3 linked regions of the Homo sapiens genome follow. The protein of the gene in region 1 interacts with the protein of each later gene in a biochemical or structural test. Each region holds a gene or a part of one and is shown on either strand. Other genes may lie near its edges.

Evidence for each region.
Region 2: the proteins of MAP2K4 (region 1) and ITCH form a complex in vitro, tested with the Homo sapiens proteins (one study listed by BioGRID).
Region 3: of the proteins of MAP2K4 (region 1) and LRRK2, one has a biochemical effect on the other in vitro, tested with the Homo sapiens proteins (one study listed by BioGRID).

Annotation. Positions count from the first base shown.
Region 1 is NC_000017.11:12,111,359-12,115,016, forward strand, and holds part of MAP2K4 (dual specificity mitogen-activated protein kinase kinase 4), read left to right. Parts: intron 1-1,874; coding exon 1,875-2,002; intron 2,003-3,658. UniProt on the Homo sapiens protein: Dual specificity protein kinase which acts as an essential component of the MAP kinase signal transduction pathway. Essential component of the stress-activated protein kinase/c-Jun N-terminal kinase (SAP/JNK) signaling pathway.
Region 2 is NC_000020.11:34,478,154-34,481,811, reverse strand, and holds part of ITCH (E3 ubiquitin-protein ligase Itchy homolog), read right to left. Parts: intron 2,183-3,658; coding exon 2,023-2,182; intron 1,214-2,022; coding exon 1,080-1,213; intron 747-1,079; coding exon 606-746; intron 1-605. UniProt on the Homo sapiens protein: Acts as an Acts as an E3 ubiquitin-protein ligase which accepts ubiquitin from an E2 ubiquitin-conjugating enzyme in the form of a thioester and then directly transfers the ubiquitin to targeted substrates.
Region 3 is NC_000012.12:40,304,853-40,308,510, forward strand, and holds part of LRRK2 (leucine-rich repeat serine/threonine-protein kinase 2), read left to right. Parts: intron 1-932; coding exon 933-1,114; intron 1,115-3,614; coding exon 3,615-3,658. UniProt on the Homo sapiens protein: Serine/threonine-protein kinase which phosphorylates a broad range of proteins involved in multiple processes such as neuronal plasticity, innate immunity, autophagy, and vesicle trafficking.

The sequences.
Region 1 (3,658 bases):
TTGTTTGGCTTAATGCTTGTTAGAAATAATATCTTTTTTTCTTTTGGCCTAAAATTATGTAGAGTTAGGTCCCTAAACAAAATTCTTTGTTTCTCTTGTATTTCTTCTTGTTCTTGTCTTGATTTTTTTTTTTTTCCCTTCTTTGTTAGCTGTGTTCTATAATTATGAGAGTAGCACCTTTGAGGCATTTGATAGTTACCTTAGGGATATTTACTGATCACAGTAAAGCACCAAGGTACTGCCTGGGGAGTAGTTGAATAAAATAAAAAAACTTCAGAAGTAACTTTTATTGTTCTCTTACTAAATGAAGTGATGAGTTTATAGCCATCTTTTATCAGTTAGGATCAGTTAGCTTTTTTGTTGGAGTCAGTGCTTTTGATTACAAGTAATAGAAAATCCTGATAACTCTCTTTAAACTTCAGGGAAATTCATTATCTGTCATAATTAGTCCAAAGATGGGGTGGCTCAAAGCACAATATGCTCCTCTTCCTTCTGTCCTCCTTCATGTGTTAACTCTGTCCTCAGGGTAGTAACAACTAGAGCAGTTCCCACTATCATGTCTATATGTGGCTGCCTCGTGAAGAAGAGGTGCTCTCGTGCTGTGCAGCTCTGTAGGGAGTATGGAAACTTTTCCCACGTCTCTAATACCTTTTCTTGGCTCATTCACCAGAAGTGCCTCATGCCCTTAAACCAGCTACTATCAAGAAGCATGAGACTACCCTTATAAAACTTATACCAGCCAACAGCCAGGTTTTCGAGGTGTGGATGTTGATGAGAAGAGATACTTCAATAAAACACAGGTTCTGTTAGAAAGTATGGATGGGGCTGGGTGTGGTGGCTGACACCTGTAATCCCAGCACTTTGGAGACCAAGGCAGCTGGATCACTTGAGGTCAGAAGTTCGAGACCAGCCTAGCCAACATGGTGAAACCCCATCTCTACTAAAAATACAAAAATTAGCCAGGTGTGGTGGCGCATGCCTGTAATCCCAGCTACTTGGGAGGCTGAAGCAGAAGAATCGATTGAACTTGGGAGGCGGAGGTTGCAGTGAGTGGGGATTGCACCACTGCATTCCAGCCTGGGTAAAAAAGAGCGAGACTCTTGTCTCAAAAAAAAAAAAAAAAAAAAGCATGGATGGTTAGGAATGGATGTTTGATAGGCCCACAGCTGTTTCGGTCATGGTAAGAGATCTTTACTGAATTTTTTTGTGGATCACCTTCTGAGTTACATTTAGATGTTTTCTGCATCCTATATTTTAAAACCTTATTTTTTATTCATTGAGCCAGGATAGTGACAAGGACATGGATAAAAGGACTGAGCTATGGATAGAGAATTAGTTGGCACATACTGGTAGTGACTTGATTGTCAATGAGAAAGGGATTTGACATTCCTTATATTTTGACTGTTATGTAATGAATCTGGACTAAGTAAATGAATTTGTAAGCCTCTTGAAAACAATTTAATGCCTAAATTTCTTGTGAAAATTTTTTTTGATATTCAGTTTTTAAGCACTGGCATTCAGAAAATTGTTTTCCTTTCTCATTTTCAATAGAAGAAAACCATTGTTTTTTCTGTGTTTTATAAATATGAAGATGTTAAGAGAAAAATCAATCCCCATCTATATCTTACAGATTAATGTTTGTGAAATGACTTTTGCTGTTACATTTACACAATTATAGTTATTAAAGCTACATGTTTAAAACATGAATAATTATTGTATGTGATAAATGAAGATGTTTTACTTCTTATATATCTGAATTTAAGGACTTGACCACTTATGTTGTCTAAGGTTTTTCAATATTTTTGCTTAAAGTGAAGCCTTATGTAACTTAGGAAGAAGCTAATTGTATACTGAATGATATCTATGTCTTGCAGATATCAAACCTTCCAATATTCTTCTGGACAGAAGTGGAAATATTAAGCTCTGTGACTTCGGCATCAGTGGACAGCTTGTGGACTCTATTGCCAAGACAAGAGATGCTGGCTGTAGGCCATACATGGCAGTAAGTGTTAAGTCCAGGCCTTCTTGCTTGATAGTCATTGCACAGAGAGCCTGTGCTCTTTTGTGCTGGCCATTAGTCATACGGTTTTACCATGAAACTGCTAGAATATTTCCCTTACCCTAAGGCCCAAGCTCAGGTCCTAGCCTCTCCATGAAACTTTGCTAAATTATCCCAGTCAGCTCCTGTTTTCATTGTCTTGCTTTATTTCTCTTACTTGGTATTTAGCAGTTGTGGTCTTCTCTGATTATTGTTTTTTCATTATATTGAACTCAACTCATTAAACAGATGGTAACTTCTCAGAAAGTTCCCACCGTCCCTTAGTGAGACAAATGGGAAGCCTTGAGTTCATTAGCAGAATTCACTATGTATTACAGAGTCTGAAGCTGCATATTTTGAATATTGTTAGTCCTTTTTTTTAGGGGTAGATGAAGCACACCAACAAATGCAAAGGTAGAGGCCTTCAGTATTTTGCAACCTGGAGCCTCTTTTCCTGCAAAGAGACAGATGTACACTATCCATCCATAGATATCAAACTCATCTTACCCCAGTATATTTGCATACAGTGTTCCTACAGCCTGGATTTTGATCTGTATTTGAATGAAAATGTAGTGTCTGTATTTCAGACATTTCCCTAGGTGTTAATGTCTTTCTTCAATGTTGCCATGGTTCTTTGGGGACCAGCACACTACTAAATGTGACACATAAGGTTTTGTGGTTGTTTCTTGAGGCCTCCCTGCCAGCAGCATTTCTTTCCATCTTTGTAGACTGTTTTAAACTAAAGATAAGCTTAGAATTGAATAAAATTGTTCTTTCTTGGTTTCCTCCTTGATATATATGTTTTCAAACCTAGTGCTATAAATAATAAAAAAGTAAGAGTCACAGGCTAGATATTATAGGTGTTCTAGATTATTTATGAATGGATAGGCTTAGTGCTACTACAAATTCAACTTACTGCATTTTTCAATCCTCTTTTGGTTTTGTTATATCTTCCCATATCACTTTTTCTTCAGATGAACATGTAAAAGCGGTGTGTGTGTGTGTGTGTGTGTGTGTGTGTAGACACCTAACCTGTGTGGTAAGACCTTTTAAACTTTTGGTTTTGTGGATGTTGACTGGCTGGGCAGATTTCTTGACTCAGTTTGGAAGATCATTTGTTTATCGTGATAACTAGGGATAAATGGCACAATAGTTTCAAAGGCAAGAAATAAAAAAAATTAGACATGGAGTATTTGGGAAATGTGATTTACATATTTATTAAGGATACCCCGAGAATGAACTGAAATTGTTATTTACAGTTTTAGGGCTTGTCTCGATACTAACAGTGACTAAATGTTTTTGTTGTGTGACACTGACTAAGAATTATATTTGATTGAAGCAGGCTTTGAAAATGCAATTGCAGCCCAGATAAAGTAGAATATTTTGAATTCAGCTTTCTAAGAAAGACTCAGACTTTCTTTAAAACAGACTTTCGTCATTCTTGTGCAGAGATATGCTTTGCAGGCCCAGGAGATGTAAGACTTCTGTTTTCTTGCTGACCTTCATCTGTGGAACACAAAGGCTGATAAACTCTTGGCCTCTAATCTTTACTGGACCAGATGAAATTCTTCTGTCCATTCTCATCTTTCAAAGCCTGTTATAGATAGACAAGAACTCAAT
Region 2 (3,658 bases), on another chromosome or scaffold:
CTCAATCTCCTGACCTTGTGATCTGCCTGCCTTGGCCTTCCAAAGTGCTAGGATTACAGGCATGAGCCACCATGCCTGGCCGATGATGAGGTTTTAAAAACAGGAGTTTTCCCTGTACAAGCTCTCTCTTTGCCTGCTGCCATCCATGTAAGATGTGACTTGCCCCTCCTTGCCTTCCACCATGAGGGTGAGGCCTCCCCACCCTCGTGGAACTGTAAGTCCATTAAACCTCTTTTTTTTATAAATTGCCCAGTCTTGGATATGTCTTTATCAGCAGCAGGAAAGTGGATTAATACACCTTACAATATTCCCCATGAAAATATCTGCATATATATTTGAGATTCTTTTTAATGACATGTTATACAGCATAGTGATTACAGAGTTGATGTTTAAAAGAGTGATCCTGCATGACTTTTATCCTTAAAACTCTTTTAAAAACACTTAAAAAAAAACTTTTTAGAAATGAAAAATGACTGCCTACATAGGATATTGATTAGTACAGAGACAAATACTATTTTTGGAGATACTCTCCATTAGTATTAGTAAGCAATTATCAATGTGCTGTAGTCAAACAAAAAGTGAAATGTGAAAAGGAGCACTCTCACCTGATGTATTCCTCTTTATTTTCTTCTGTTACAAGAATATTGCCACCATTAGGTTTCAGATCATGACTCTTAATTTCACCTAGAATTTCTTTGTCAACGGAGAAGTACATTTCCAAATCACATTCCTCAATATTGTTTTCCCTGCACAAATGAAATTAGCACTATTTGTTATATCCACCAATTCAATCATAATTTATAAGTTTTTAACGAAAGGCCCATGTTCTTAAATAATTAATATTAAGCTATAACATCAAAATAAGAAGAAATAAGATTCTGTTCTAAGGTCATATTATTGCCGAAGATCTTGGGTGTATTTTTGTAAAATTTATCATATTGAATAAAAAGACAGGTTTGATATATAGATCATTTAAATACAATAAACCAATTATGTGCCTACAGTTTGGATAAGTTATCAATACTACACGGAATGCATATAACTATATTTTAATAAATTACATGGAAAAAGAAACTTACTTAACCCAGATGAGAGAATTGTAAAATTCTGGATCAATAGATTCTAAATCCTTGAGTCCAACTGGTTTGTTCAAGATACGCTTATAGAATGGTAAAGAAAAACCCGTGTCTATGAATTTCCCATGGAACAGAGCCTATGAAAAAAGGAAACAAGACCGCTTAAAATAACTGTACAATAATCATTTTATTTCAATATATTAGATGTACTCTTCATTTAAAAACACTTCCCTGGGTCAGGCATGGTGGCTCACGCCTGTAATCCCAGCAATCTGGGAGGCCGAGGTGGGTGGATCACCTGAGGTCAGGAGTTCGAGACCAGACTGACCAACATGGAGAAACCCCATCTCTACTAAAAACACAAAAATTAGCCGGACATGGTGGCACATGCTTGTTTGTAATCCCAGCTACTCGGGAGGCTGAGGCAGGAGAATTGCTCGAACCTGGGAGGCAGAGGTTGTGGTGGGCCGAGATCACGCCATTGCACTCTAGCCTGGGCAACAAAAGTGAAACTTTGTCTCAAAAAAACACTTCCCTGGCTGGGCACGGTGACTTATACCTGTAATCCCAGCACTTTGGAAGGCTGAGGCAGGTGGATTACCTGAGGTCAGGAGTTCAAGACCAGCCTGGCCAACATAGCAAAACCCCTTCTCTACTAAAAATACAAAAATTAGCCAGGCATGGTGGCGCACACCTGTAATCCTAGCTACTTGGGAGGCTGAGGCGGGAGAACTGACTGAGTCCAGGAAGCAGAGGTTGCAGTGAGCCAAGATCGTGTCACTGTACTCCAGCCTGGGTGACAGAGCAAGACTCTGTCTCAAAAATAAAAAACAAAACAAAACAAAAAACCACTTCCCTTTCTCTCATATGATCTGTTATGGCACCTAAGAGAAAATTTAGTATTGCTGAATAAGCAAAGTAAACATAATTCTTGACCTGCACTTACCATGGCAATAAATCTGCCAATAAAACGAAAATATTTCAGGTGATCTGGATTGATGTAAGAAGCGGGGTTTATCTGCAAGCAGTAGTTATCCTTCCCTGCATATTCAAACAGGCAATACATTGGGTTCAACACTTCATGTGACAAAAGAAAGAACCATTCTCTGAAATCAAAAGAAAATTTACGATGAAAAATCTTGTAGGTTACCAAGAAATCAAAGAACAGTGCTATAAAGTTCTCAGGGATCTATACCCCTCAGCTAGTGATAGTTTTCTAATCTCATGTTGATTTTTATTGCTTCTGTTCAAACTCACATCTGTTTCACAGAGTTGGTAGTATACACCATCTTTGGTAGATGGTAATATATACATTATTACATTTCAAAAAATCTAAGACAACATTGCACCTTTATTTGATGAACGACTAAATTGTATTTTCCAATTTTACCTGAGATACATCGTAATTTCAGAGATATTATAAAATGAAAATATTAGTCTTAGAATCAATGAAATACTATTCATAGGCAAATTTAAAATTCACTATTTACCCATGTGAGTAAAGTGGCTGAAATCAATCTAATATTCCATCTATTACTAAGTCCCATAATAATCCCCATCAAGTGCCACTACTCCCTACACGTTAAATCAATATGAAAATTCTTCCAATTTCACAGAGGCAGTAAAGTTCTTAATTCCAGCCACTCACATATTAGAAAAATGCTGAGACTCTAAGTCAAATATTGTGAAAATATGAACCAATATTAACATAAGATTATGGTTACTAAAACTACGTAACATGGGTGATCTGGGGTAATACATGTGGCATAAGCCTGTAATCTGGATCTCTTTTCCTGTTAGTTCATGGCCTCTTGTGATAAGTGTATCTCATGACACACTTTAATATTGCTAGTTTATTTTCTTATTAGGAATGAATGATTGCTCTCCTCTTCAATTGCCTTTAACTTATACAAAATTACATGTTTCTACTCATATTTGTTATTTATCTATGATTATATCATATATTTTGAAATAATTTTATTTAAACTCAGAAACATAATATAAATAAGAACTACTAAAATGTAGCCACCAATTAGCGTGCACACAAAGACACAGGCTCTGAACTAGGTCATTAATAAACAATATTTCTACTCTTCACAATAATCCTAGAAATGTAGATATTAATATTCTTATTTTACAGATGAAAATATTTGCCCAACATCACACTATTGAGAGCAGAAAAAGATTCAAATCCCGTCTTGACCCCAAAGTCCTTGTCTTTGCACAATGCCAGCTCTACGCAAATTTTTAACCTGGTGTGATATATTATCATGGAATAAGCAAAGCAATTCTCATTAGAGACTATCTTCTAGGGTCCAATATTAAGCTCCAATATGAAGAAAGCAGAATTAAGACTTTCAACTCCTATTTTGTACAACCTTCTATATTTTCATGACAAATATACTAATCTCAGTTGGAAACTGAGTAACTATTACCTGTATCAGTAATCTGTGGTGGGGAAAATGACCTGATCACTATAAGGCCTTGTGTTTTCTGTGGAACAGATATAAGAGGTGGTAGACTTAACACTGGCTACTGGTTAAATGATACAAAGCTTGCATCCAGGCTCTACAATTTATTAT
Region 3 (3,658 bases), on another chromosome or scaffold:
GATATACTTTTAAAGGATTATATGAATATATACATAATTATAGATGAATGTGATGCTGTGTGTCATTGTATCACCAAATCTCTGTCCAATCTGTTAACAGACTCTTAAATAAACCATTTTTCTCAAGTTGTTACTGGCCTGTATACTGTATTACTTGTTTTTCAGCTTTCCTTGGTACATTCTTAAATTTCTGCATTCCGCCACCATGCTATCACCCTAATGGATCAACCTTTTTTGTTTTGCTCCATTCTCTCTGTTGTAAATCTGAAATTGATAATTTGTTTGTCTCAGAAAATATTATTTTTCAAGTTCTAGCGTATTGCCTACAAAAACCAAAAGAATTAAGTGTCTGACACTGTGAGGTTCAGCAAAACTGTGCATATATTTTGCTACCTGATTTTTTGCCAGCAAATGAGTGTTTTCTATTATAAATATAGTATATATTGCTTAAAAATTTGGAACAGAAAAGAAATTACTCCAATTAGGATGCCACCTAAAGTATAAGCATGTAGCTGTACTTTGAGAACACTAAATTGCATGCAGGTTTGTAGTGACTAGGTCTTCTTGCCTTTACTGAAGGAGCAGAATGAAGTCACAGATAATGGATAACCAAATCCATTTTGTGGTAAGAACTTCCTTACTTTCAATGTCTTGAAGAGATGAAGTATGTTACCAAAGGAGATTGGGTTTTTTAATATTACAGATGAGTGACATAGATTGTTTGGGAGTAAGTTTTTATATGTAAGTTTTTATGTTTTTAAACACATACTGACAACTTATGACAAACCTTTGGAAAGTTTTAAAACTCTGTTGAAAGGTTGTGCAAGCTGCTGATGGAATCTGTGAGCCTTTCTTGTTTCTTATCACGTTTTTTGGCAGAGCACATTTCTTCCTTCCCACCAACAGGTTTTGCCCTTTTTTTTCCCATTAAGATTCCTCCTGAGATTGGCTGTCTTGAAAATCTGACATCTCTGGATGTCAGTTACAACTTGGAACTAAGATCCTTTCCCAATGAAATGGGGAAATTAAGCAAAATATGGGATCTTCCTTTGGATGAACTGCATCTTAACTTTGATTTTAAACATATAGGATGTAAAGCCAAAGACATCATAAGGTTAGATAATTTTTTTCTATTTGGTTTTACTAAATTTATTTCAGATTTTCTACTCTCTGTGACTTTGATGGACATATATTGTTACTATTTAGGGAAAAATAAATAGTAATATTTGGCATTAATATGCTGTGTGTCATTTGCCTTTCATTTAATGAATGTGTTTCTGTGGTGCCACTGTAGAGATTTCTCATTCTTCTTAGCCAGACTAATGTTGAGAGCGGCTTCTCCTCCTTCTGTTTCTTTTCAGTGGAGTAGACTCTAAAAGAAAATAAGTATTGCTATTTGGTCTCTGGTTACCAATTACACAATCTAAAGAAATACAGCACAGTATAATAACTTCTCACACTGTATTTCATATAGCAACTAGTTAACATATGCCTCTTACATCTTAAAGCATTATAGCTACTGACATCATGTGAAATTACTAACTTCTATTTTGCCCATTAGGATGAGTAATCTACTCACCTTGATCAGTTTTGAAAGCACCAAAACTTCTCAAGTATCACTGTTTCTGGTCTTTACACTTTAAGCACTTTAAATATCTTTGGTAATGGATTTTATCCTCCTTTTTGTTCCCTTTCAGCACATCGGTCTTATTACTTTCTCATAAAATCCTTTGCTCCCTTTTCCACAGTTACTGTATTAACGTTGCAGACCTCAGCTCTGTCATCACCTCTCAACTTGACTGTAATATCCACCAAGGCAGAGACCATGGCTGTGTTCACTCACTATTCAAATCTTGGCACCCAACACAGTGCCTGGCATACAATTAATAGTTGTTTAATTACCAGTGATTTATACTTACTCATTCTCTTCTGCCTAAAATCTCTTAAATTTATATTTAACTTCATCTGTTTTTATGAGGAAGGATTTTGTTTTCTGAACTCCTGAGCTTGATTTCATTTTAAAGGAGTTTGTTATCTTTTGTGCTAATTGTGGCTACCCTTCATCCTACCCAATTATTTTTCTCTCTTGAAACTGGAAAAGATGGTCATATAAAAATTGGTTCAGTTCTTACTAAACATTTAGTAGAACTAGCTTTCAGTGTATTATACTGTATTATCTAACTAAATATTTTTAATATTTAATATTTAATTTAATATATAACTAAATATTTTTAAACATGTTTAACATTTTCAGAAAAGACAGAAAGACCTAGAGCAGATTAGAAATTGTAGGCATCATTTGCTTTTTGAAGAAAGACATTTTTTCAAATAGTGGTGCATTCTTAAGAAATAAATCAAGAAAGGTAATGTTGCTTTTTGGTCATATCATCAGGAATGTTGGTCAGATTCTTATTAGTTACAGGAATGAATTGATCACTACTCTGATGTAAAATTCACTTATGATTTAGTCTTTTTCTCTAATTTGAAACTGTGGCAACATTTTAACATATTTCAAAATATATCTTTCTCTATCCATTATATTTTTGATAACACTTTGACTCTACTATTAGTTTAAAGGTGGTTTTTTAGCTACCTAAACACTTCTATTTCATTCAGGTTTTACATTAAGATCATTAGGAATGAAAGCTAACATCTGCTGATAGTATAATAGTTTATATTTATTTATGATGTTATGTGATCTCACTATCCATATATACTATTATATGCATATGTGATATACATGAATATATAGCTATACATCATATATACCATATATGAATATATACACACACATATATAATGTAACTAATATGACCCTATTATCAAGCTTTAACAGTATACATATATCTCTACCTTGTTTCTATGTCATATGGACTTTGTGAAATTTTGAACTTTATAATTTATAGGGTTTTTCTTTTCTTTTCTTTTCTTTTTTTTTTTTTTTTTGAGACTGAGTTTCACTCTTGTCACCCAGGCTGGAGTGCAGTGGCCTGATCTTGGCTCACTGCAACCTCTGCCTCTTGGCTTCAGGCGATTCTCCTGCCTCAACCTCCCAAGTAGCTGGAATTACAGGCACCTGCCACTGTTCCCGGCTACTTTTTGGATTTTTAATAGAGACGGGGTTTCACTATATTGGCCAGGCTGGTCTCAAACTCCTGACCTCATGATCCGCCCACCTCGGCCTCCCAAAATGCAGGGATTACAGGTGCGAGCCACCGCACCTGGCGTATAATTTGTAGGGTTTTTCATACTATTTAAAGACATTAGAATATGTATACATGTATGTATATGTGTGTATATATAGAGGTATATATATATTGCATATCGTATTCTAATTAGTATTGCAAACATATTTTGGCCTTTTGATTATTTCTGGTGATAGTGTAACATGTTTTCTTTGGTGATTTTACCAAACATTATCAACTACCCTAAAATCTCTAGCAAAATATATGCATTAACAGTACTCTGAAAGACATGTACATTATTAGTTATATGAGATATGCACTCTTCTGGATACTATATTTTAGAATAGTGTGACATGTAAAAGAACTCACCTAAATCTCAAGTATACTTTTAAGCAGTTTATTATTTTATTTTTATCTTTCAAATACTAGGTTTCTTCAACAGCGATTAAAAAAGGCTGTGCCTTATAACCGAA